3 linked regions of the Homo sapiens genome follow. The protein of the gene in region 1 interacts with the protein of each later gene in a pairwise test. Each region holds a gene or a part of one and is shown on either strand. Other genes may lie near its edges.

Region 1 (10,355 bases):
CTTTGATATAAAACACTTTGGCATCTAATAACTCTAAGATGTATGCTATTGGGAGCCACTGAAGGTTTTTAATAAGGCAAATAACATAATCAGATATATCTTTTAAGATCGCTTTTCTAGAAACATTGCTAGATTAGAAGAGAAATTAGAGGCAGAAAGAACAATGAAAAGATTATTGTACTACCCATCTCTTGCCTGAACTAGAAACACACACAAAAATTGATTTAAGTGATATTCAGAAGTAGAATGAATTATTCTTCCTAAAAATTTGAATTTGGGACAAGGGGCAAGAACAGTTAAAGATGCCCTTGATGTTTCCAGCTCCAGTAACTGGGTGATAACAAGATCTAAAAGGCACACACAAGGTGCTCAGTACCTGGAGAATAAATAAATAAATCAGACAAAAATTTTGCTTCTCACATTAGATGTTTAACGGAAGTTTAATTTAACTCCTCCCACCAAGCCAGGCGACAACAACAAAGTTACAAACACAATATCCTCACAAAGTCAACTAGGTCATTAGAAGAGATAATGAATTCAGGCCCGGCGTGGTGCCTCACGCCTGTAATCCCAGCACTTTCGGAGGCCGAGGCGGGCGGATCACAAGGTCAAGAGATTGAGACCATCCTGGCCAACATGGTGAAACCCCGTCTCTACTAAAAATACAAAAATTAGCCGGGCGTGGTGGCGTACGCCTGTACTCCCAACTACTCGGGAGGCTGAGGCAGGAGAATCACTTGAACCCAAGAGGCAGAGGTTGCAGTGAGCCGAGATTGTGCCACTGTATGTACTCCAGCCTGGTGACAGAGTGAGACTCCGTCTCAAAAAAAAAAGAATAGAAAAGATAATGAATTCAGTTTCAAGATGTCCAGTAAGCAGTTAAAAATATAACACTGCAGAACACGAGTGATGGAGATCCCATTAGTGGTTGCCAAGGGAATGGATGTGATTATCCAGAGAGAACATATAGAGCAGCAAGACAACTGAGGATACAGTCTTAGAGAATGCTGATATTTAAAGGGCAGATGAAAGAAGAGAAGCCAGCTGAGATTAAAACAGGCTGAAATGGATGCAGGACAAGGAAAAGCAAAAGTAGGAATGATGTGATTTGGCTAAAGCAAAGGATCTAGACTCTTAAGATAAATCAGACTAAGAGGTTAGGAATCAATTTTGTGGCCAAAGATCTTCAAACATCGGAGGTCTAGAAGGCTCATACTCCAATTCTCCCCATTTGCCCCCAACCCCAGGTGCTGGCGTTCATAGCAGGGTACAGTTTGAAAATCTGTACCCCACAGATTTGGGGGTACAAATAGTCATGGAGAGTTTCTGAATGGGAATTAACATGAATAGAGGTGGCATTAGGAAGACTAATCAGAAAACCACGTATAGGATTAATTGATAAAAAACTAGATTTTGCAAGCAACTAAGGAACCAATTTCAAAGATGGAAATGAGGACTTGAATTAAGATGTGGCAGTTAGCATGAAAAAAGCAGCTTCAACAAGACTTCACCAGCCTGAGGTGTTGGCCAGGCTTTTTGGTAGGAATTGAGACTCTTTTGGGAGTTTTTTGGGGGACACAGGGTCAGTGACACTGAGGCACTGGTCTAATGAAGGATTAACTTGGCAATGGTAATTAGGATTGAATGGCAGGTAAGATAGGAGATAGAGAAACAACAAAATTATTATAGCCGCACAGGTGTAAAGTGATGAGAATTTGAAATAAAGTTTAGCAGTAGGCATTCCTTAGTGACATTCTGCTGTTTTTTCCAGAATGGTACTTCCAGTTTCCGACTGACTCAATTTCTGGTCACCCAGTTGGAAGACATGCCTGGGCATGTCAGGACAACAATTTAGGTCAAGATTTCCCAGCAAGCACTTACGATGCCCCAATCTAGGCTGGCATCATACCAGGCTCTTACCTCCTATCCAGCCCCAATTCCACCACTTCCGTTTCTTTGCCTTTATGTCTCTTCTACTTCTGTAAAATAGCTGTATGTTGTCATAGTCATACACTACTTGTAAGTATTATTTTCACTTCTATTCCCACAAAGTCTGACGGAACCAATGGGATACCCGCCCAGGTGCAAGAACTTGGTTTTAAATTTAGCTCCTCTACTGAGTCCTGGGCATGCCATTTAATGTTTTCTGGCCTAAACTTTACCTTGACAATAGACTATGAATTAGATTAGCAATAGTTAACTCTGAGAAATTGACAATAACTATGGACCCCTTTCTCAGAAGATTCACATCTGCACATACAAAATCTACATATCACTTCAGGAGATTTATAAAGCCCCTTCTAGTCTATCTATGGACCCTTTAAGACAGTGGGGGGTTTTTTGTTTTTGTTTTAATATGTGTACCAGGATCACCTGAAGTACTTGTTAAAAATGCAGATCTCAAGAGATTTTGATTCACTATGTTTGGGGTGTTGGTCCAGCAATTTACATTTTTTACAAAATACTCCAAGTGACTCTGATGCAGGTCTCCTATTATGCACTCTGGCATCTAGAAAAACAAAGTGCTTCAGGCAACCCAGCATCTCAAGTTAAAAACTTTTGGACCACTAAAATTCATTCTGAATCTAAAATTCTGTCTGTCCTTGCGGGTCTGTATCATTGAGATAGGAGTAATAAATAAAATGTAATATCCAGGTGTTAAGCCTGAATCACTGCTGGTGCCATTAGCATAAACAGCAGTCTGAATTTTCCCCTTTGAGTAGGGAAGTTGGTACTAAACGCATTTGTTTCAAAACAGGAAGAAAAAGCTTGAGGGATATTTACAGTTAGTTACTAAATGCTTACAAAAATCAAGTTAAATAAAATAAAATCTCAAACCTGGAATCTACAACTTTCTAAAGAAATGTAGGGCCAAGCATGAATCTCTTGGGGTGGAAACGTTTGTTTCCCCCAAATCTTCACAGTATTAAATCAAAGATACCACAGCAACAGGTTCCAGTAGTACAAAAAGCATTTCTCTTGTCCACAAAGGGCTTAGAAGTATTTGCAAAATGACAGTGTTTGAAAATTATACAGCAACAGTTTAAACTACCATACAATCCTACAGTCTAACAAATTCTGGTTTATTTATTTTAGGTACTTTTATCAGCATAAACAACTTGGATGAACAACTTGGGCTTATTAAGCACCTACAATTTTCGTGGCACTTTGCATAAAGCATTTTACTTAATTCTCTCTGAAGTATCACTTCCATTGTATAAAGGAAGAAAGTGACACCCCGAAGATTCAGTTAGTTAAGGAGCCGGGCCTGAGCAAAACTGGCCTCCTACCCTGATTTTTTCACTGGGAGGAGGTCATGAGGATTTCGTGTCCCCTTCTACCTGTCATCTTCACCCCAGCCACCTGTGTCAATTTCCACACGCGTTCTCCAACTCCTTGTCACCATCCCAAATGGTATGCACCTCTCCAGCAGAGCCGCCACAGTCCTCTTTCCTTGCCTCGGTTTCCCTGGCCAGGGCTCCAAAACAGGGAAGGAGGGTGGGAGAGCGTGAGGCGGATAAACGCAGGGGTAAGTCTCACCCCGGCCTGAGGCCTCCAAGCGTCGTCCTTGGCTGGCCCCGGGGCAGAGCAGCGAGCGGGACGCAAACCCAAAGTCAGCTCCTTCCTCCGCCCTCCCCGGGGACGGCCTCCCCGGCGCTCGCAACGACGAAGCCAGGCTGCGGCGAGGGCGGGCGGACAGGCCTGTCCTGACCGCGGCGAATAACATTTCCTACAGCGGTCCTGCAACTTGCAATCTAACGGGCTGGCGTGACTGCGGTGAGGGGGAAGACGCAACAGCAACATTTACCTCATCCTGATCCAGCCCGGCCGCTTCCGGCCTTTCCGGGTCGCCCATCGCGCAGACTCCGCCGAAGCTACGGGCGCTGAGGGAACTGAGCTCCTCAGGCCACCTCCAACTACGACAGCACCCAGGTGGTCCGCTGGTCCGCTGGGTCCGCCCCGCCCCCAGCTCTAGGGACTCGGCCGGCCCCGCCCCGCCGCGCCGGTCCTGCTTTCTCGCCTGTCCATTGAGTGACTCTCCCTGCGCCGGCCCGGCCCCGCCTCCCCCGCCTCGGGGCTCCGCCTAACTTCGGCCAGCCCCGCCTCCCCGCCTGCGGCCTAAGGGTTTCTCCCCGCCTCGGCCGACCCGCCTCCCCTACTGCGGCCTAAGGGATCCTCCCCGCCTCGGCCTGCCCTGCCTCCCAGCCTGTGGCCTAAGGGATTATCCCTGTCTCGGCAAGCCCCGCCTGCCTTGGGGCACCGCCTACCTCTGCCAGCCACGCCTCCCCTGCCTCGGGGCTCCGCCTACCCCGGCCAGCCCCATTTCCCCGCCTGCGGCCTAAGGAAATCTCCCTGCTTCCGCTGGCCCCGCCTTACTCTGTTGCACCGCCCAGTCGCCCGGCTTTCCACTGAGGGACGCCCCCTGCTCTGGACTGCTTAGCCTACTCCAGCTGGCCCCACCTCACCTCATCGGCCCCGCCTCCTCCGCTCGCCCACTCCGGGCGCCCACTCCTGAGGAGCTATCCCAGAGTCCGCGCGGCCTCGCCTTCCCGGCCCGCTCACCACCCCGCCTCGTCCCACCTCGCCTCGCCCTCCCCGGGCTCTAGCCACTTGGTGCGGCAGGTGTCCTGCAGGCCGGCTCGAGATTCCCGAGCTCGCCCTCGTGGTGTTCCAGGAACACGGTACTTTGCGCTAGCCTGGCCTGTCCTGAGAGACTGCGGGAGGCGAAGAGAACGCGCTGTTGCTGTGGGAAGCGCCGGGGACGGGACAGCTACACCGCCAAACACTTCGCTAGGGAAAGGGCTGGCTGGTTTCGTGCGTAAACAACCGAAAAGGGGAAGTGTCTGGGGGAAAGTGTGTGTGTGTGTGTGTGAATGCGGGTGAGTGAGGGGGAGAGGGACACGTTACTAAAGTCAGGCAAATATTTTGAAAAAAATATATTTTGAAAAAAATAGTTTGGTCTAACAAAAATAAAATGGAAGAGAGATTTGTTTAAGTAGTTTGAAGCTGAAAGATTGACGGGATCTTGCCATGACCTGAACAGCATGCACCTGTTTTGTGGCTGGCTGAAGGATGGTAAATAGGATCAAGATCTCACTTTAAGCGTTGAAAATGCTGAAAGCCCTTTCTCAAACCTGCCATAGCGTAGGGGTAGACAGTCTTTCTTAAAGCAACTACTAGGGGTCAAATGCTGAGTGAAATTTTTTTCATCTGTGAACTTTAAATAATAGCCACATACATTCTGCTAGGCAACTGAGTCTCAATTTACTATAGGCCACGTGGCAAATAATCAGATTCAATTAAAGTCATCAAACAATAATTGTGTGTCGGGCATCACGTTTAGGTATTCAAGATACAAACATGAATGAGTTTGGTGAAAAAGTCATATCATCATGGGCATGAATTCTAGTTCCCTCACTTATTAGCTATGCTACCTTGGGTCAATTAACCTCTCTGAGACTCAGCTTTCTCATCTACAGGATAAGAATAATAATCCCTTCCTCATAAGGTTGTTGTGTGAATTTAATAATATATTACTTGTAAAACACTTATTGGGGTGGGAAATTACCTTGATGCAATGGTAGCTTCCACGTACGAGTCAGGCCATCCCAGAGGGTCATGGAACTCAGATGGCTGAGTTCAAAAGGCTCAGATCAAATTGAGATGCCTGAGTCACACAGTTTATTAAATCAATTTATTTTCATTTTAAATAAGTTTATTCAAACAAGACATTTGACTTGAAAGGAAAACTAGGATTTTTTTTTAAGAGTAATGTGTCATTACTGAAAGATTGCCTTACATGTAATAGCCACGTACAAAGAGTTATAAAATTGTCTTGGCTAGGCCGGCACGGTGGCTCACGCCTGTAATCCCAGCACTTTGGGAGGCCAAGGCGGGTGGATCACCTGAGGCCAGGAGTTCGAGACCAGCCTAACCAACATGGCAAAACCCGTCTCTACTAAAAATACAAAAATTAGCCGGGCGTGTTGGCGCATGCCTATAATTCTAGCTACTTGAGAGGCTGAGGCAGGAGAATAGCTTGAATCCTGGAGGCAGAGGTTACAGTGAGCTGAGATTGTGCCATTGCACTCCTGCCTTGATGACAAGAGCAAAACTCAGTCTCAAAAAAAAAAAAAGAATTGTCCTTGGCTTTACAATCATAAACAAAATACATTACAATTCTTCAACTGAAGAAGATATGCAAAAACTGTTATGGTGTTTTGTTTTGTGTGTGGGGTTTTTTTGGTTAAAACAGAGCAAAATAACGAACTGGAATATAAAGATAAGACCTGAATGAGCATGGCATTAATGGAGAAGGGAGTCTTCACAAAACCATATTTCTCCGCCCATCCTATCTTCATTTGATGCGGATCAAAAGATAACATTGGGGCCAGGCGCAGTGGCTCACGCCTGTAATCCCAGCACTTTGGGAGGCCAAGGCGGGTGGGTCACCTGAGGTCGGGAGTTCGAGACCAGCCTGACCAACATGGAGAAACCCCATCTCTACTAAAAAAATACAAAATTAGCCGGGCACGGTGGCGCATGCCTGTAATCCCAGCTACTCGGAAGGCTGAGGCAGGAGAATCACTTGAACCCGGGAGACGGAGGTTGTGGTGAGCCAAGATCGCGCCACTGCACTCCAGCCTGGGCAACAAGAGCAACACCCCGTCTCAAAAAAAAAAAAAAAAAATTGACCATTTGGTTAAAAAATGCAATACGCTTTTATGCATTATAACTATGGCATATACAATATGCCATAAAGACTATATGAAGATGTAGAATTCTGTTACTCCTAGAGATCTTGCAGTTACACATTTAATTGTTTACATAGTTACATTGTAACTAATATATACATATAATAAAGTAATGGGGAAGAGGAAAATGATAGAGAAAACTATACTGTAGTAGTCAGGGTGTGATGGAACCAAATCGCAGTTTTCTAATTGAAAATGCATTCTTGGTCCGTAAGAACAGAGTTCTGTAATAAAGTAGCAGGCTCCATTTTTAGTCAAAACCTCCTGTCCTTGGAACACATTAATTGTATCTTTAGCCTCCATCTTCAACTTTACAGGTGTGTCTATTTCATTGATTGGTTGCACATGAAGTCTAGAATCTGATCAACCTCATTGCCTAACCCTGTTCACAATAGGCTTTCATTAATTTACTAAGTGGTATACACCTTTTTTTTTTTTTTTTTAAGACGGAGTCTCATTCTGTCACCCAGGCTGGAGTGCAGTGGCGGGATCTCGGCTCACTGCAGCCTCTGTCTCCCAGGTTCAAGTGATTCTCCTGCCTCAGCTTCCCGAGTAACTGGGATTACAAGCACCTGCCACCACACCTGGCTAATTCTTGTATTTTTTTTTAGTGGAGACGGGGTTTCACCATGTTGGCCAGGCTGGTCTCGAGCTCCTGACCTCAGGTGATCCGCCCACCTTGGCCTCCTAAAGTGCTGGGATTACAAGTGTGAGCCACTGCGCCCGGCTGGAATATGCCTTTTAATCTTAAACTGCACCACAGACCCATTCTGCCCTGCCACCTTCAAATTAATAGGATTGTTGTTCTCAATCTTGCCTCCTTCTTTGGGCTTTCTGTCAGCCAGAGTCTTCTTAGCTGCCACTTCACAAAACAGGTGCCAGTTCTGTGCCAAACAAGCACACAAGCTGTACCCTATTAAATCATTTTAAAACATAACAGCAAGGGGAAAGAGATTGAGTGGACTAACATATTTTGGTTAGGATGTGGGGAGGGGAGAGAGTGGAAGGATTATACCATCTGAATCTTAATGTTACTGTTCGTGTACTGTTTGATGCATCAGACTTCCTTGCTGGTGGTGTAGTTATGAGGACCATAGTGAGGATGAGCAAGACTGCTCAGCAGGTAGAAGGTGGAGCCAGCACACACTTTTCTTTTGGAGAACTGCTGGAACCTGACTCCAGCTATAACTGCATTTATAACCAGTTATAATTAACCTACTGAGCAGCTATGGATGGTATCTGTGTTTCTTGGACAGAGCACGTGTGGGGCCAGAGTGGATCTCACCAGTGAGTGGCTGGTTTAGGGATAACATAGTTGTCAGTCTGGCAGTAACATGATCATTACCTTATGAATATTTAAGATTTATTTGGGGCTGGGCACCGTGTCCCACGCCTGTAATCCCAGCACTTTGGGAGGCCGAGGTGGGCAGATCACCTGAGGTCGGGAGTGCGAGACCAGCCTGACCAACGTGGAGAAACCCTGTCTCTACTAAAAATAAAAAATTAGCCAGGCGTGGTGGTGCAAGCGTGTAATCCCAGCTACTCGGGAGGCTGAGGCAGAACAATCGCTTGAACCTGGGAGGCGGAAGTTGTGGTGAGCTGAGATTGTGCCACTGCCCTCCAGCCTGGGCAACAAGAGCGAAACTCCGTCTCAAAAAAAAAAATTTACTTGGTCCTTCTAGCCCTTTTAATCTAAAAGTGGAACTCTCATGTGTTCCATTATTTTTGTGTATGTTCAATACATATATGTTCCATTCATCCTATTTTTAACATGCCTCACAGTGTAATTATTTATTATTTATACTTAATACATCTTACAAATTTCATTATGTCTAACAAGCCATTTGCTCCCATACTTAGTTTCTCTCAATTTCTGTGGCAGAATTGAATATTCTTAAATGACACAGCAAAAACATCACAGTACTCAGAATAGTGTAGGCAGTGTGAGTTTCCCCCAGGATGTTCAAAGTTATTGGAAGAGCAAATGGAAAAAAATAACACGCGTAACTGAAAGATCTCAAGGAGTAAGAGGATTCTGCATCTTCATATGGACTTTATGGCATATTGTATTTTCCAAAAATGGCCACAACAATATTTCTGGTACCATATGCTGTTCCAGAACTTGGATACACCTCCCCTTAAAAGGTGGTGTCTAATGCACTTCCCTTTGCATATAGGCCATCAATATTAACTTTTGTTTGTTTGTTTGTTTGTTTGTTTGTTTGAGACAGAGTCTCGCTCGGGCACCAGGCTGGAGTGCAGTGGCACGGTCTCGGCTTACTACAACCTCCGCCTTCCGGATTCAAGTGATTCTGCTGCCTCAGCCTCCCGAATAGCTGGGATTACAGGCGAGTACCACCACATCCAGCTAATTTTTTTAATTTTTAGTAGAGACGGGGTTTCACCGTGTTAGCAAGGATCATCTTGATCTCTTGACCTCGTGATTCACCTGCCTCGGCCTCCCAAAGTGCTGACATTACAGGCGTGAGCCACGGCACCCGGCTATTAATACTAACTTCTAACAAATAGGATACAGTCAAGTGCCATGTAACATTTTGGTCAATGATAGACCCCATATATGGTGGTGGTCCTATAAGATTATAATGGAGCTGAAAAGTTCCTATCATAGTGACGTTATAGTCATAGCACAACACATTACTCATGTGTTTGTGTTGATGCTACTGTAAACAAATCTGCCAGTGTGTAAAGTATAGCTTATATAATTATGTACACTACATAATACTTGATAGTGATAATCTATATTACTGATTTATGTATTTACTATAGTTATCATTATTTTAGTGTATACTCCTTCTAATTATATATATAAAAAAATCAGTAACTGTAAAATAGCTTCAGGCAGGTCCTTCAGGAGGTATTCCAGAAGAAGGTATGGCTATCATAGGAAATGACAGCTTCATGTATTTATTGCCCCTGGAGACCTTCCAGTGGGACAAGATGTGGAGGTGGAAAACAGTAATATTGATGATCCTGACCCTGTGTAGGCACAGACTAATGCATGTGTGTGTCTTAGTTTTTAACAAAAAAAGTTCAAAAAGTAAATTATTTTAAAAAATAGGAAAGAGTTTATAGAATAAGAATATAAAGAAAGAAAATTTTGTGCAGCTATGCACTGTTTTAAGCTAAGTGTTATTACAAAAGAGTCAAAAAGCTTTAAAAATTTAAAACGTTTTTGAAATACAGTTACAGTAAGGTAAGGCTAATTTATTGAAGAAAGAAAAATATTTTTCATAAGTTTCTTGTAGCCTAAGTATGCAGTATTTATGGCATCTACAGTAGTGTGTAGTAATACTCTAAACCTTCACATTCACTCACTGACTGACTCACTTAAAGCAACTTCCAGTCCTGCAATCTCCATTCATGGTAACTGCCCTATACAAGTGTGCCTTTTTAAAAAAACCTTTTATATCATATTTTTACTGTACCTTTTCTATGTTTAGATACACAAATACAATTGTGTTTCAGTTGCCTACAATATTCAGTACAGTAACATGCTGTACAAGTTTGTAGCTTAGGAGCAATACCACATACAGCCTAGGTGTATAGTAGGCATTACCATCTAGGTTTGTGTAAATACAC
Region 2 (5,627 bases), on another chromosome or scaffold:
GGTTCCAGTTATTTTCAGAAAGCACAAAGAGATTCAATTTCCCTGGAGGATCAGGACAGAGGAAGGAATCTCTAATCGTCCCTCTCCTCCAAAACCAGGGAATCAGAGCAGTCAGGCCTGTTGACTCTAAGCAGCAGACATCCTGAAGAAATGGTAAGGGTGGAGCCAAATCTCTAGAAATAAGTAGTGAGGCCGTTAATTGGCCATCACTGATGGCCCTTAGGGAAAGACTGGACCTCTGTGCCAAGCAGTATCCCTGTTCAGCCCACCTTAAAGGTGTAGGCACCCACTGGGTCTACCAGTATGCAGGTTGGGATACTGAAAATTTCCAGATGAGCTCTTCTTTCCTACAAGTTTTCATAATTAGGGAATGCCAGGGTTTAGGGTAGGGGTTAATCTGTTGGGGGTTGATGTGTTTAGCAAGAAGCTACTCCTAGCTTTTGCTAAAATATGGTTGGCACTGCCTCTTGTGGCACAGGCCATAATTGTTCCATAGACCCCTCTCTAGCCCTGTGACTGTAGTTAGTTACTTTGATAATTTTCTTTGGCCATTGTTTGTTTATATTTCACAAACTCCACCTACTGCCCCCCCCCCTCTTTTTTTTAAGAATGGCCTGATCATGGCTATCTCAGCCACATTGTTGGCAATTTAATTTATTTACTTCCTTTTTTTTTTTTTAAGAAAGGAAAAAAGAAAAAAAAATCAAACTTGAAACTTTTCTTTTGATGTTCCTATTGTGGGGGTTCTGGATAGGGTGGGACAGGGATGGGGGTGTGTTTTATATTTTTTCCTTTTCAGCACAACCTTTGGCTTTAATATAGGAAGAGCCAAGGGAGTCCTCGGCTGAACTTACGATATCTGCCCCAAACCTCTGTAACCCCAACTGAAATGAGGAGCTTCCTCTCTTCCTGTGAAGGATATGACAGTCCAGCATCGATGCCTGTGCCCTCTGGAAAAATTTCCTCCTAGCCCTTCCAGGGCCTTATCATAAAACTCTGGATTTAGAGTATTCATTTTGAAGGCAACTCCCCCTTCCCCAAGTTTCCTTGGAGCTGTATAGCTGGGTTCTAAGCTTCACCATGCAAATCAGAAATTTTATCTCTAAGTACAGGCTGTGCCGTGTCTCACCCACACCCCCCTGGGGACTTCAGTTCCATTTCAGGTTACCTGGGGTATACCTTGATCCCTAGAGTGACTGGCAGAGTAAGAGAAGGGGAGAGATAATAGGTGTGATTATTTTAATATGGAGGTGGGAGTGTGGTTGGAGATAGAAAGGCTCCTCCCCACCATGTAATGGCTTCCTCTCAGAATTTTATTCCAGGCTAGCTTGCTGCAGGTCTGGGTAGTTGGATCATGGCTCCACTGGGATTGGGGTGGAAAGCTTGAGGGGAGTAGGGTTCCAGCTCTGGGACATTGTGCTCAGGAATTTGAAAACGCTGCTATACTTACTCTGGTTACTACATTTCTTCCACTCCCCTTTCCCCTACCTGCCTTAACCAAGGCTCATACTGTCCTGTCCTTACCCTCAGATGGAGCCAGGAAGCTCAGTGAAAGGCTTCCCTACCCTTTGCACTAGTGTCTCTGCAGGTTGCTGGTTGTGTTGTATGTGCTGTTCCATGGTGTTGACTGCACTAATAATAAACCTTTTACTCAACTCTCTAAATTCTTCAGCATTACTCCCTTTCTTGAGAAGGTTTCCCCTCTGCTTTTGCCTTTCTCTCACCTTAATTCCCTTTCTTCCTTACTTTGTTACCTACCCTTATCTTAGTGCTAACTTCTCTTTCAGGAGGATGTCTGGGAGTAGTGTGCACTTCACAGCTGCTTTCCCATGTACCCTCCTGCATTCTTCCCTCCTATCTCCTGTTCTGTAGCAGCCAAAGCTCTCTAGTGATCTGAACTGTGTGCTTCCCAGGGTCTGCCTTTATCCTAAATTCCATGTCTTCCCTGAGTGGTCCTGAGTTTTTGGGATAATTTCTACAGAAGATATGTATATATCTTTTTCCTTTGTCCCACAAGCAACTTTGCTTTAGAATCTAGAATTCCTTTGCAGGCAGAGAAGTCTCTACCTCCCAGTGTTTCCTAGCTAAGAACGTAAATGTGAGGAGGGAAATGTACTTGCAGAGGTTTCATAATTATTTACTTATAAAAATAGTCTTCATAGCCGGGCGCGGTGGCTCACGCCTGTAATCCCAGCACTTTGGGAGGCCGAGGTGGGTGGATCACAAGGTCAGGAGTTCGAGACCATCCTGGCTAACACAGTGAAACCCCGTCTCTACTAAAAATACAAAAAATTAGCCGGGCGTGGTGGCAGGCACCTGTAGTCCCAGCTACTTAGGAGGCTGAGGCAGGAGAATGGCGTGAACCCGGGAGGCAGAGCTTGCAGTGAGCAGAGATTGGGCCACTGCATTCCAGCCTGGGCGACAGAGCAAGGCTCCGTCTAAAAAAAAAAAAAAAAAAAAAAGTCTTCATAGGCCGGGCACGGTGGCTCACGTCTGTAATCCCAGCACTTTGGGAGGCCAAGGTGGGTGGATCACAACGTCAGGAGATCGAGACCATCCTGGCTAACATGGTGAAACCCTGTCTCTACTAAAAATATAAATAAATTAGCCGGACAGGCGCCTGTCCTCCCAGCTACTCAGGAGGCTGAGGCAGGAGAATGGTGTGAACCTGGGAGGCGGAGCTTGCAGTGAGCTGAGATCACGCCACTGCACTCCAGCCTGGGCAACAGAGCAAGACTCCGTCTCAAAAAAAAAAAAAAAAAAACCAGTCTTCATAAGTATTTGCTGCTACCTTTCCCTGTCATAAGAAAAAGGATAGCCAGACATGGTGGGACGCCACTATGATCCCAGCTCCTTGGAAGGCTAAGGCACAAGAATCGCTTGAACCTGGGAGGTGGAGGTTGCAGTGAGCTGAGATCATGCCACTGCACTCCAGCCTGGTGACAGAGCAAGAGCCTGTCTCAAAAAAAAAAAAGAAAAGAAAAGAAAAAGGGATATCTTTTCCTCCTCCCAGAAGTTTGTTTTAAATTTGAGCATTTATCATGCACCTGATGTAAACCTAATAGTACTCTTGATACTCTAGTGGCTTGAAAAAAAAAAAAAAGGCATTTCTGTGCTGAGTCTGCGCTTCTATGCACACAAGGTATGTTTATAAAATACTGATAAGCATGTCACAGTATAGAGCATAAGAGGCAATGTATGTATCCTAGTGACATTAGCAGTGCTTTTCCCCCCTTAAACTCCTTTAAAATTACTTTTAGAACTTGCTGCTCATTCTTGTGAATGTTATGAATGGTGTCATATTGTCCTTTTACAGAAGATACGATTTTTAGAAACAAATATTCATTGAATGTCTGCCCTGTGAGATACTCACTAGAGTGAACATGAGGAGGCTTATGTAGCAAAATGGCACCTACCTGCAAAGAACTTAGTCCCTAATGGAGATGAATATATAATAAGGGATCATAAATGTGCTAAGTGGATTTACTAGTAATATGTGAGCCAAGGACGATAAAGCTCCTGATTCTGATGGGTATCAGGAAAGGCTTTTCAGGAAGTGTTACTTGTTATAGGTCAGAGGTCAGCAAACTACAGGTTACAACCCCACTGCCTGCTTTTGTAAAAAACTTTATTGGAATACAGTTATGCCCACTTGTTTATATATTGTCTGTGGCTGCTTTCACATTACAACAGCAGGGTTAAGTAGCTGGAACAAAGCCTAAAATACTTGGTCTTTTACAGAAAAAAATTTGCCAACCTGTTCTAAACTTTTAAGGTCAGGAGAACTGGGGGAAGGAGGGAGTAGAAAGAACACTGTCACCCAGACTGGAGTGCAGTGGCACCATCATATAGCTCACTGTAGCCTCAAACTCCTGGGCTCTAGTGGTCTTCCCACTTCAGCTTCTGGAGTAGCTGGGGCTACTGCACCTGGAATTGTCTTAATCTGTTTTAATACTAGTAAAATTTTTTTTGTTTCATCTCTTTCAGTGACTTTGATACACTGTCTTAATTTTTTTTTTTTTTTTTTTTTTTTTTTTAGATAGGGTCTGGCTCTGTAGCTGAGGCTGGAGTGCATGACGTAATTTTGGCTCACTGCAACCTCCACCTCCCAGGCTCAAGTGATCCTCCTACCTCAGCCTCTTAGGTAGCTGGGACCACAGGCATGCGCCACCACACCGGGCTAATTTTTTGTATTTTTTGTAGAGATGGGGTTTCACCATGTTGCTGAGGCTGGTCTCAAACTCCTGAGCTCAAGGAATCCACCTGCCTTGGCCTCCCAAAGTGCTGGGATTACAAGTGTGAGCCACTGCACCTGGCTTCATTGTCTTAATTTTTTACTTCAGTATATACATTGGAAAAATAAAAATATTTTTGACATTACCTAAATAACAAGTGTTTACAATTAACAATGTATAATGAATAATCTACTACAAACCCATGTTTACATTACCCTAATTGTCCCAAGAAAAGTCTTTTTTTTTTTTTTGACACAGGATCTCACTCTTGTCACCTAGGCTAGAGTGCAGTGGCACAATCACGACTCACTACAGCTCACTATAGCCTTGACCTCCTGCTGGGCTCAAGCAGTCCTCCCATCTCAGCCTCCCAAGCAGCTGGGACCACAGATGTGCACCACCATGCCCAGCTGATTTGTTTCTTGTATATTTTGTAGAGACAGGGTTTCACCATGTTGCCCAGGTTGGTCTCAAACTCCTGAGCTCAAGTGATCTGCCCACCTCAGCCTCCCAAAGTGTTGGGATTACAAGTGTGAGCCATTGCACCTGTCTGAAAAGTCCTTTTGTAGCTAATTTGTGTCTAAACCTGGGTCCAATCCAGGACCACGAATTACATCAGGTTATTTCTCTTTTACCCTCTATCTGGGTTCATGAAACCACCTTTTTTTGTGTAACCCTAATTTGTTGAAAAGATTGGCCAGGCGCGGGGGCTCATGCCTGTAATCCCAGCACTTTGGGAGGCCGAGGCGGGCGGATCACGAGGTCATGAGATCGAGACCATCCTGGCTAACATGGTGAAACCCCGTCTCTGCTAAAAATATAAAAAAAAAAATTAGCCAGGCGTGGTGGCGGGCGCCTGTAGTCCCAGCTACTCGGGAGGCTGAGGCAGGAGAATTGCGTGAACCCAGGAGGCGGAGCTTGCAGTGAGCCGAGATCGTGCCACTGCACTCCAGCCTGGGAGACAGAGCAAGACTCCGTCTCAAAGAAAAGAAAAGATTGAGCCAGTTTTCTGGAGAATGGTCGTTTGAACTTGACTGCTTTTTTTCTTTTCAGATGGGGTCTCGCTTTGTCCCCCAGGCAGGAGTGCAGTGGCACGATCTCAGCTCGCTGCAACCTCCACCTCCTGGGCTCAAGTGATTCTCTTGCCTCATCAGCCTCCCAAGTAGCTGGGACTACAGGCACGTGCCACCATGCCCGGCTAATTTTTGTATTTTTAGTAAAGACGGGGTTTTAAACCTATGTTGGGCCGGCTGGTCTTGAACTCCTGACCTCAACTGATCCACCCGCCTTGGCCTCCCAAAGTGCTTGGATTACAGGCATGAGCCACCGCGCCTGGCCTAGCCCGTTTTACTAAACAAAATTAGATAGGGCCTTGAGAGATTCAAGTTAGAC
Region 3 (9,383 bases), on another chromosome or scaffold:
TAAGGAGACAGAACCCAATACAGTAATGACTTGGGACTTCAACAGCCCACTTTCACCATTGGACAGATCATCTAGACAGAAAGAAACAATGAATTTAATCTGCACTATAGATTAAATGGACCTAATAGACATTTACAGAAGCTGTCATCCAACAGCCGCAGAATACATTCTTCTCCTTAGCACATGGAACATTTCTCAAGGATGGATCCTAAATTCTCCAATCAAAAGACACAGAAGAGCTGAAGGGCTAAACAAAACAAGGCCCTACTACCTGCTACATATAAGAAACCCACTTCATTTATAAAAACATAGATAGACCAAAAGATGGAAAGAGACATTGCATGCAAACAGAAATCCAAAAAGAGCACCATCATGTTAGGCCGCAAAACAAGTCTGATAAAAAGTATATTTTCTAACCACAATGGAATAAAAGTAGAAATAAATAACAAGTGGAACTTTGGAAACTATACAAACATATAAGAATTAAACAATACGTGCCTGAACAACCAATGAAGTAATTAAGGAAATTAAAAAATGTCTTGAAACAAATGAAAATGGAAACACAACCTACTAAAACTTATGAGATACAGTTAAAGCTAACACTAAAGGGAATGTTTATAGCAATAAATGTGCAAATCAAAAAGTAGAAAACCAAGAAATAAACAACCTAGTAATGCATCTTAAAGAACTAGAAAAGCAAGAGCATGCCAAGCCCCAAATTAAGAAGAGAAATAATAAAGAAAACAAGAAAATAAATAATAAAAAACAGAAATAAAATTGAGACAAAAAAATAGAAAAGATCAATGAAATGAAAAGGGTTGTTTGGAAAGACAGACAAAATCAATGAACCTTTACCCAGACTAAGAAAAGAAAAAAAAGAAGATCCAAATAAAATCAGAGACAAAAAAGGAGACATTACAATTGATATCACAAAAATTCAAAGGATCATTGGAGACCATTTGAACAACTGCATGCCAATAAATTGTAAAACCTAGAAGAAACGAATAAATTCCTAGGCACATACAGCCTAAGAAGAATGAAACATTAAGAAAACCAAAATCGAAATAGACCCATAATAAGTTTCAAGATAGAAACAATAATAAAAAGTCCCCCATCACAGAAAAGGCCAGGACTTCATGGCTTCACTGAGTTCTACCAAACATTTAAAGAAGAACTAACATCAATCCTACTCAAATCATTCTCCAAAATCAAGGAGGATCTCCAAATTCATTTTATGAGGCCAGATTTATTCTTTTTTTTTTTTTTTTTTTTTTTGAGACAGAGTCTCACTCTGTTGCCCAGGTGATCTGCAACCTCCACCTACTGGGTTCAAGCGATTCTCCTGCCTCAGCCTCCAGATTAGCTGGGATTACAGGCATAAGCCACCATGCCCAGCTAATTTTTGTATTTTTTGTAGAGATGGGGTTTCACCATGTCGGCCAGGCTGGTCTCAAACTCCTGGCTTCAAGAGATCTGCCTGCCTCAGCCTCCCAAAGTTCTGGGATTACTGGCGTGAGCTACCATGCCTGGCCCCAGATTTATTCTGATACCAAAACCAGACAACGATACAACAACAACAAAAAAGAAACTACAGGCCAGTATCTCTGATGAAAATAGATATAAAAATCTTCAACAAAACACAGCAAACCAAATTCAACAGCACATTAAAAAGATCATCATAATCAAGTGGGATTCATCCCAGGGATGTAAGGATGGTTCAACATATGTAAATCAATCAGTGTGATACATGGTATCAACAGAATGAAGGACACAAAGTGTATTGTCATTTCAATAGATGCCAAAAAAATCTTTTTTGATAAAATTCAATATCCCTTCATAAAAACTCTCAGCAAACTGGGGACAGAAGGATCATCCCTCAACATGATAAAGCCATACACAACAAACCCACAGTTAGTATCAGACTGAATGGGGGAAAAACTGAAAGCCTTTATTCTAGGATCTAGAAGAAGGATGGGCACTTTCACCACTATTACTCAAGTTAGTAACAGAAGTCCTAGCCAGAGTAAACAGACAAGAGAATGAAATAAAGGGCATTTAAATTGGAAAGGAGTAAGTAAAATTATCATTGTTTGCAGCTCATGTGATCTTATACTAACCTAAAGACTCCAACAAACGACTATTAGAACTAATAAATTCAGTAACATTGCAGAATACAAAATCAACACACAAAAATCCATAGAATTTCTCTATGCCAACAGTGACAACCTATCTGAAAAAGAAATCAAGAAGGTGATCCCATTTACAATAGCTACAAATAATATTAAATATCTAGAAATAAACTTAACCAACTACAATGCAAACTATCAAACATTGATGAAATTAATTGAAGAGGACACAAACAAATGAAAAGACATCCCATGCTCATGGGTTGAAAAAAATTGTATTGTTAAAATGACAATACTTCCCACAGCAATCTACAGATTCAAAGCCATCCCTATCAAGAGCAATGACATTCTTCACAGAAATAGAAAAAAAAAATCCTAAAATTGTATGGAAGCACAAAAGACCCCAAATAGCCAAAACAATCCTGACCAAAAAGAACAGAGCTGGTAACTGGTAGACTTACCACACTACCAAACCTCAAAATATACTACAACGCTATAGTAACCAAAATAGCACGATAGTGGCATAAAAACAGACATGTAGAACAACAGAACAGAGAGTCCAGAAATTAATCTGTGTATTTAAAGCCAATTAGTTTTTTACTAAGGTGCCAAAAACACTCATTGGGAAAGGACAGTCTCTTCAATAAATGGTGTTGGGAAAACTGGATGCCCACATTCAGAACAACAAAAGTAGACCCCAACTCTTGCCATATACAAAAATCAAAGAAAAATGCATTAAAGACTTACATCTATGAAACTAATCAAGGAAACCATTAGGCAAAAACTCCAGGACATTGGTCTAGGCAAAGACTTCTTAAATAAGACCTCAAAAACACAAGCAACTAAAGCAAGAAAATAAAATAAAATAACAACAAATGAGATCTCTCCAAGCCAAAAAGCTTCTGCACAGCAATGAAAACAATAAAATGAAGATATAACATGTAGAATGGGAGAAAATATTTCAAACTAATATCTGACAAAGGATTAATAACCAGAATATATAAGAATCTCAAACGACTCAATAGGAAAAAAAAATCTGATTTTAAAATGGGCAAAAGATCTGAGGAGACATTTCTCAAAAAGACATACAAATGGCAAACAGGCATATGAAAAAAATGTTCCACATTATTAATAATCAGAGAAATACAAATCAAAACTATAATGAGGTATCAACTCACTCCAGTTAAAATGGCTTTTATCGAAAAGGCAGTCAATATCAGATGCTGGTGAGAATGTGGAGAAAGGGGAACCCTTGTACACTGTTGGTGGAAATGTAAACTGGCACAGTCACAACAGAGAACAGTATGGAGCTTCCTAAAAACACAACAAATAGAACTATAATCCAGCAATCCCACTACTGTGTATATACCCAAGAGAAAGGAAATCAGTATATAAAAGGTATCTGTACTCCCATGTTAACTGCAGCACTATACACAATAGCCAGGATATGGAATCAACCTAACTGTCAATCAATGGATGGATAAAGAAATGTGGTACATATACACAATGGAATGTTATTCAGCCATAAAAAAAAAATGAAATCCTGTCATTTTCAACAATATGGATGTGACTGACATTATAAGGGAAATAAGCCAGGCATAGAAAGACAAGTATCACATGTTCTCACCCATATGTGGAAGCTTCAAAAAAATTGAAGTCATAGAGATAGTGAGTAAAAAGATGTTAGCAGAGGCTGGGAAGGGTAGTGTTGAGAGGAGAATCAAGAGGAGATGGTTAATGGGTAGAAAAATATAGTTAGATAGAAGGAATAAAATATAGTGTTCAGTAGCACAATATAGTAATTACAGCTAACAATAATTTAGTGTATGTTTTAGAACAATTAAATGAGTGGAAATGAAATGTCCCTAACACAAAGAAATGACAAATACTTGAGGTAATGGATATCCCAATTACCTGATTTGATCATTACACATTGTATGCTTATATCAAATATCACATACTCCCCATTTTATGTATCCATAGTAATTAAAAATTAAAATTTTTAAATATATGAGTTAAGTTAAAAAAATTTTGGCTCAAAGCATAAATATATTAAAATCAAATCTCAGAAGTAAAAAAGAAAGACAATTAGGGTTTTATTTATGGTAGTGGCAGACAGGACCAACCTTTCTGCTGACGCCAACAAAAAAACTAAATAATGAATGAAATAAAGTAATGTGAAATTACTTACCAAATTCCATGTGAAGGTAAACCAGAAACAAACCATACACCAAGTAACTTTTGTTCTGAGGACATTTTCCTGTCTAGAAGAAAAGGCTGAGAAAAAAGGCTGAGCTAATGGAAGATGTGCCGGTCTATGGTAAAAAAATCAAAGCACAAGGCCAGGTGTGGTGGCTCATGCCTGTAATCCTATCCTTTGACAGGCCAAGGCAGGAGGATAGCTTGAGCCCAGGAATTCAGGATGATTGTGTGCAATACAGCGAGACCTCATTTAAAATAAAAATAAACACAAAAAATCAAAATCAAAAATAAAAATAAAAGCACATTGCCTAACAAAGCTGGGGACTCAGATAAACTACCCAATTTATGTTCAGAGTTTAAGGACAACATCATTAGGATAAGAGGAAATTGAAGGAAAATAGAATTCATGATCTTAAAGTCTTCCTTAATGTCATGTGTATAACAGAAGGAATCCCAACTCTTGAACATGAATAGTGACTTGGGACTGAAAGCACTCCTAGAGACCTTTCCTAGAAAAATGTACCTTCTTAAAAAAGATACTATTATTCTAGGACTCATATATTCCTATAATTTTTTAAATACAACTGGTACTCAAGGCACACAAGAAAAAAATATCATAAGCTAGCAGACACAGACTTAGAAAATTTAGAAACTGGAATTATCTTCAACAAACAACAAATGAACTATGAATATAGTCGGCCCTTCATAGCCACAGATTCACTCAACCAAGGATTAAAAATACATGTATATTTTTAAAAACACGACTATAAAAAATAATAGAAATTTTTAAAAAGCCATGACAGTATAACAATATTTACATAGCATCTACATTGTATTAGGTACCATAAGCAATCTAGAGATTATTTAAAATACGTGGGAGGATGTGTGTAGGCCGTATGCAAACATGATGGCATGTTATATAAGGAATTTGAGCTGCCTGTGGATTGTGGTATCTGCACGGGGTTCTGAAACCAATTTCCAGCAGATACTAAGGAGCAACTATACTAGGCCAATAAAAGCAAGATTGTAATTTTCAGCAGGTAACCAGAAACAGTAAGAATATCACCAATATCTTTAAAAAGATACTGATGCATTGATCTAATAATCTCGATGAATACAGGGCAAGATAAAGAATGCCACACGATGATTGAACATTTCCTCTACCCCCACAACCACACTTGACTAGGAGAAAAAAAAAAAAGAAGAAAAGAATTCCACACAAAAAGATTAGAGTGAAACAGCAGAAAAATTACAACCAAAAAAAGAAACAAACAAAAAAAAATTCTAAAAGAGAGATTTCCTTCAAAGCAGCATGAATTATTAGGTTGGTACAAAATTAATTGTGGTTTTTGCATTGTTGGAATTTGCCATTTGATATTGGAATTTTTTTTTTTTTTTTTTTTTTTTTGAGATGGAGTCTCTCTCTGTTGCCCAGGCTGGGCTGCAGTGGCGCGATCTCGGCTCACTGCAAGCTCTGCCTCCAGGGTTCACACCATTCTCCTGCCTCAGCCTTCTGAGTAGCTGGGACTACAGGCACCCGCCACCACGCCTGGCTAATTTTTTGTATTTTTAGTAGAGACAGGGTCTCACCATGTTAGCCAGGATGGTATCGATCTCCTGACCTCGTGATCCGCCCACCTCAGCCTCCCAAAGTGCTGGGATTACAGGTGTGAGCCACCACACCCGGCCTGGAATACATTCTTAAATAAATGTGGTTATGTTATATGTCATTTTAATGGGCATTTCTTGCTTTTTTTTTTTGGCTAATGACTTATTACTTGCTGTTTATATTTATTTTGGACTATGGAAATGATGCTAGACAAAAAGCAAAGTTGAGTGATTTTCTTATTTAAGTTCAAAGTGGGTCGTAAAACAGCAGAGACAACTTGCAATATCAACAATGCATTTGGCCCAGGAACTGCTAATGAACGTACAGTGCAGTGGTGGTTCAAGAAGTTTTGCAAAAGATACCAGAGCCTTGAGGATGAGGAGTGTAGTGGCAGGCCACTGGAAGTTGACAACAACCAATTGAGAGCAATCATTGAAGCAGATTGATCCTCTTACAATTACATGAGAAGTTGCTGAAGAACTCAACGTAAGAACTCAACGTCAACCATTCCACAGTTGTTCAGTATTTGAAGCAAATTGAAAAGGTGAAAAAGCTCGATAAGTGGGTGCCTCACCAGCTGAGCAAAAATTTAAAAAAACACCGTTTTGAAGTGTTGTCTTCTCTTATTCTCCACAACAACGAACCATTTCTCAATCGGACTGTGAGGTGCAACAAAAACTAGATTTTATATGACAAGCAATGACCAGCTCAGTGGCTGGACCGCGAAGAAGCTCCAAAGCACTTCCCAAAGCCAAACTTGCACCAAAAAAGGCCATGGTAACTGTTTGCTGGTCTGCTGCCGGTCTGATCCACTACAGCTTTCTGAATCCTGGAGAAACCATTACATCTGAGAAGTATGCTCAGCAAATCAATGAGATGCACTTAAAACTGTGATGCCTGCAGCCAGCATGGGTCAACAGAAAGGGCCCAATTCTCCACAGTAACACCCAACCGCACACTGCACAACCAACACTTCAAAAGTTGAACGAACTGGGCTACAAAGTTTTGCCTCATCTGCCATATTCACCTGACCTCTCAACTGACTACCACTCCTTCAAGCATCTCTACAACTTTTTTCAGGGAAAATGCTTCCACAACCAGCAGGATGCAGGAAAAAGCTTTCCAAGAGTTTGTGGAATCCTGAAGCATGGATTTTTACATTACAGGAAAAAACAAACTTATTTCTTGTCGGCAAAAATGTGTTGATTGTAATGACCTATTTTAATTAATAAAGATATGTTAGAGCCTCGTTATAATGATTTAAAATTCGCTGTCCCAAACCACAATTTCTTTTGTACCAACCTAATGCATTGACAGCTGATTTCTCAAAATCAATAATGAAAACCAAAAACAGTGAAATGTTATCTTCAAGGTACAAGTAAAACAACCACAAATCTGTAATATCCCCCAAAACATTCTTCAAGATTGAAGGCAAAACAAAAAATTAAGACAAAGCAAAAAAATTAAGAGAACTGACCATCAGAATGTCTGCATTATGAAACTTCTACTGAGTGTGCTAAAGTAAAAGTTAAAAGATTCCAAAAGAAAAGTCAGAGACGCAGGAAGAAATTAAGACATGGTAAACACATAGGAACATCTAGCTCAAAGTACTGTCCAGCAGCAATACAGTAAAAGTGACATAAGTAATTTAAAATTTTCTATTGTTCACACTAAAAGAAAACAAGGTGAAATCAATTATAATTTCAACATGTAATCATAATGAAAAGCTGAGGTATTTTACATTGTTTTCATACTGTCTTTGAAATATGGTGTTTATACAACATTACAATGCAGATGCTAAATTAAAACTGCCATATAAAATACTTGATCTATATTTTTATATAATTTGCAGCTAATGCCGGGTGCAGTGGCTCACGTCTGTGATCCCATCACTTTGGAAGCCCAAGGTGGGTGGATCACTTGAGGTCAGGAGTTTGAGACCAGCCTAGCCAAAATGGTGAAACTTTGCCTCTACTAGAAATAAAAACATTAGCCAGGTGTGGTGGCACATGCTTGTAATCCCAGCTACTAGGGAGGCTGAGGCAGGAGAATCACTTGAACTTGGGAGGCGGAGGTTGCAGTGAGCCAAGATCATGCCACTGGACTCCAGCCTGGGCAACAGAGCGAGACTCCATCTCCAGGGGGGAAAAAATCTCCAAAAATTAAAAAATAATAATTTAATAATTTGCGGTTAAGAAAGGTTTATGTATCCGAGTTGTTCCAAACATACAGGTTTTACAGTAACTGAATCAAGTGTCAGTTTTTAAACTTAATTGAACACTAAATAAAACTAAAAATTCAGTTCCTCAGTCATACTAGCCACATTTCAAGTGCTCAAAAGCCACACGCAGCTAGTAGCTACTGCAATGAATAGCACAAGCATAGAACTTGTTATCTGGAGTTTAAACTACGTATACAATTCAAAGAACAATGACAGCCTATAAGACCTACATGAAGATAAAAGTTGCCATCCCAGAAGAGAGTAATGCTCCAAGCACAGAGAAGATATTGGCCATACTGCTAGAAATCCCTGAGTAAAACAGACAACCCAATTAAAACAAAAAACAAACAAACAAAAAAACCTCCCAAAAAGATTTAAAAAGACAATGCACAAAAGATTTAAGAATTAAAAAGACAATTCTAGAAAGAGGAAATTCAAATAGCCGGTAAGTTTTTGAAAAAGTGCTCAAACTCTTTAGTGTCCTGGGCAGAATAAATTAAAACAACAATAAGATAAAGCCACATTCATCAAGTTGGGAAAAAGGAAAAATAACTCTTGGTGAGACAGTAAAAGTAAAGGGATCTACCATATACTGCTGTCGGGGTATACATTGGTGTATCTACTTTGGAAAAGGCATAACTAGTGAAGTTGAAGATAAACATACGTACTCTACAAAAACCCATGGTAATGTACATTAAGAATACATGTACAAGAACATTCATAATAGCATTGTTCATAACTACTAAAAACGGAACACAATCCAAATGTTTATTAATATTAGACTAAACTGTGGCTCATTTCCATTAAGACTTTTTATACTATACTTATTATACTATAGATTACTACAATCCAATATAAGAACTAGAGCTAAATGTACTAATAGAGTTATATCCCAGCTGCATGAGAGAAAAAGATACATAATGATATGTAATATATAATCCACTTACATACAATTAAGAAACAGGCAAAACGAACCTAAATTGCTTAGGAATGCTGACATAGGTGGTTAAGAAATACTAAGAAAGAAAGCAGTAAATGATTGCCATAAAAATCAGTATAGTGTTAACCACTGAAAAGAATTGAGGAAAGGGATGATCAGGAATAGAATGGAGAGGGGAGCTTCTCAGGTGCCACAGACGTTCTAGTTCTTGACTGTGGCAGCGCTTACATAGAGTTCACACTTTATAGTTTTTCATTATACTATGTATCGATGTTTGTATGCTTA

The links.
Region 2: the proteins of RRM2B (region 1) and RNF41 interact in binary tests that used the Homo sapiens proteins (3 or more experiments, as listed by UniProt).
Region 3: the proteins of RRM2B (region 1) and ORC4 interact in binary tests that used the Homo sapiens proteins (3 or more experiments, as listed by UniProt).

What each region holds. Positions count from the first base shown.
Region 1 is NC_000008.11:102,235,019-102,245,373, forward strand, and holds the start of RRM2B (ribonucleoside-diphosphate reductase subunit M2 B), read right to left. Parts: upstream 3,944-10,355; 5' UTR 3,857-3,943; coding exon 3,809-3,856; exon of another isoform or gene 3,805-3,808; coding exon of another isoform or gene 3,541-3,804; intron 1-3,540.
Region 2 is NC_000012.12:56,200,538-56,206,164, reverse strand, and holds the end of RNF41 (E3 ubiquitin-protein ligase NRDP1), read left to right. Parts: 3' UTR 1-3,986; downstream 3,987-5,627. UniProt on the Homo sapiens protein: Acts as E3 ubiquitin-protein ligase and regulates the degradation of target proteins. Polyubiquitinates MYD88. Negatively regulates MYD88-dependent production of pro-inflammatory cytokines.
Region 3 is NC_000002.12:148,009,597-148,018,979, forward strand, and holds part of ORC4 (origin recognition complex subunit 4), read right to left. Parts: intron 1-9,383. UniProt on the Homo sapiens protein: Component of the origin recognition complex (ORC) that binds origins of replication. DNA-binding is ATP-dependent. The specific DNA sequences that define origins of replication have not been identified yet.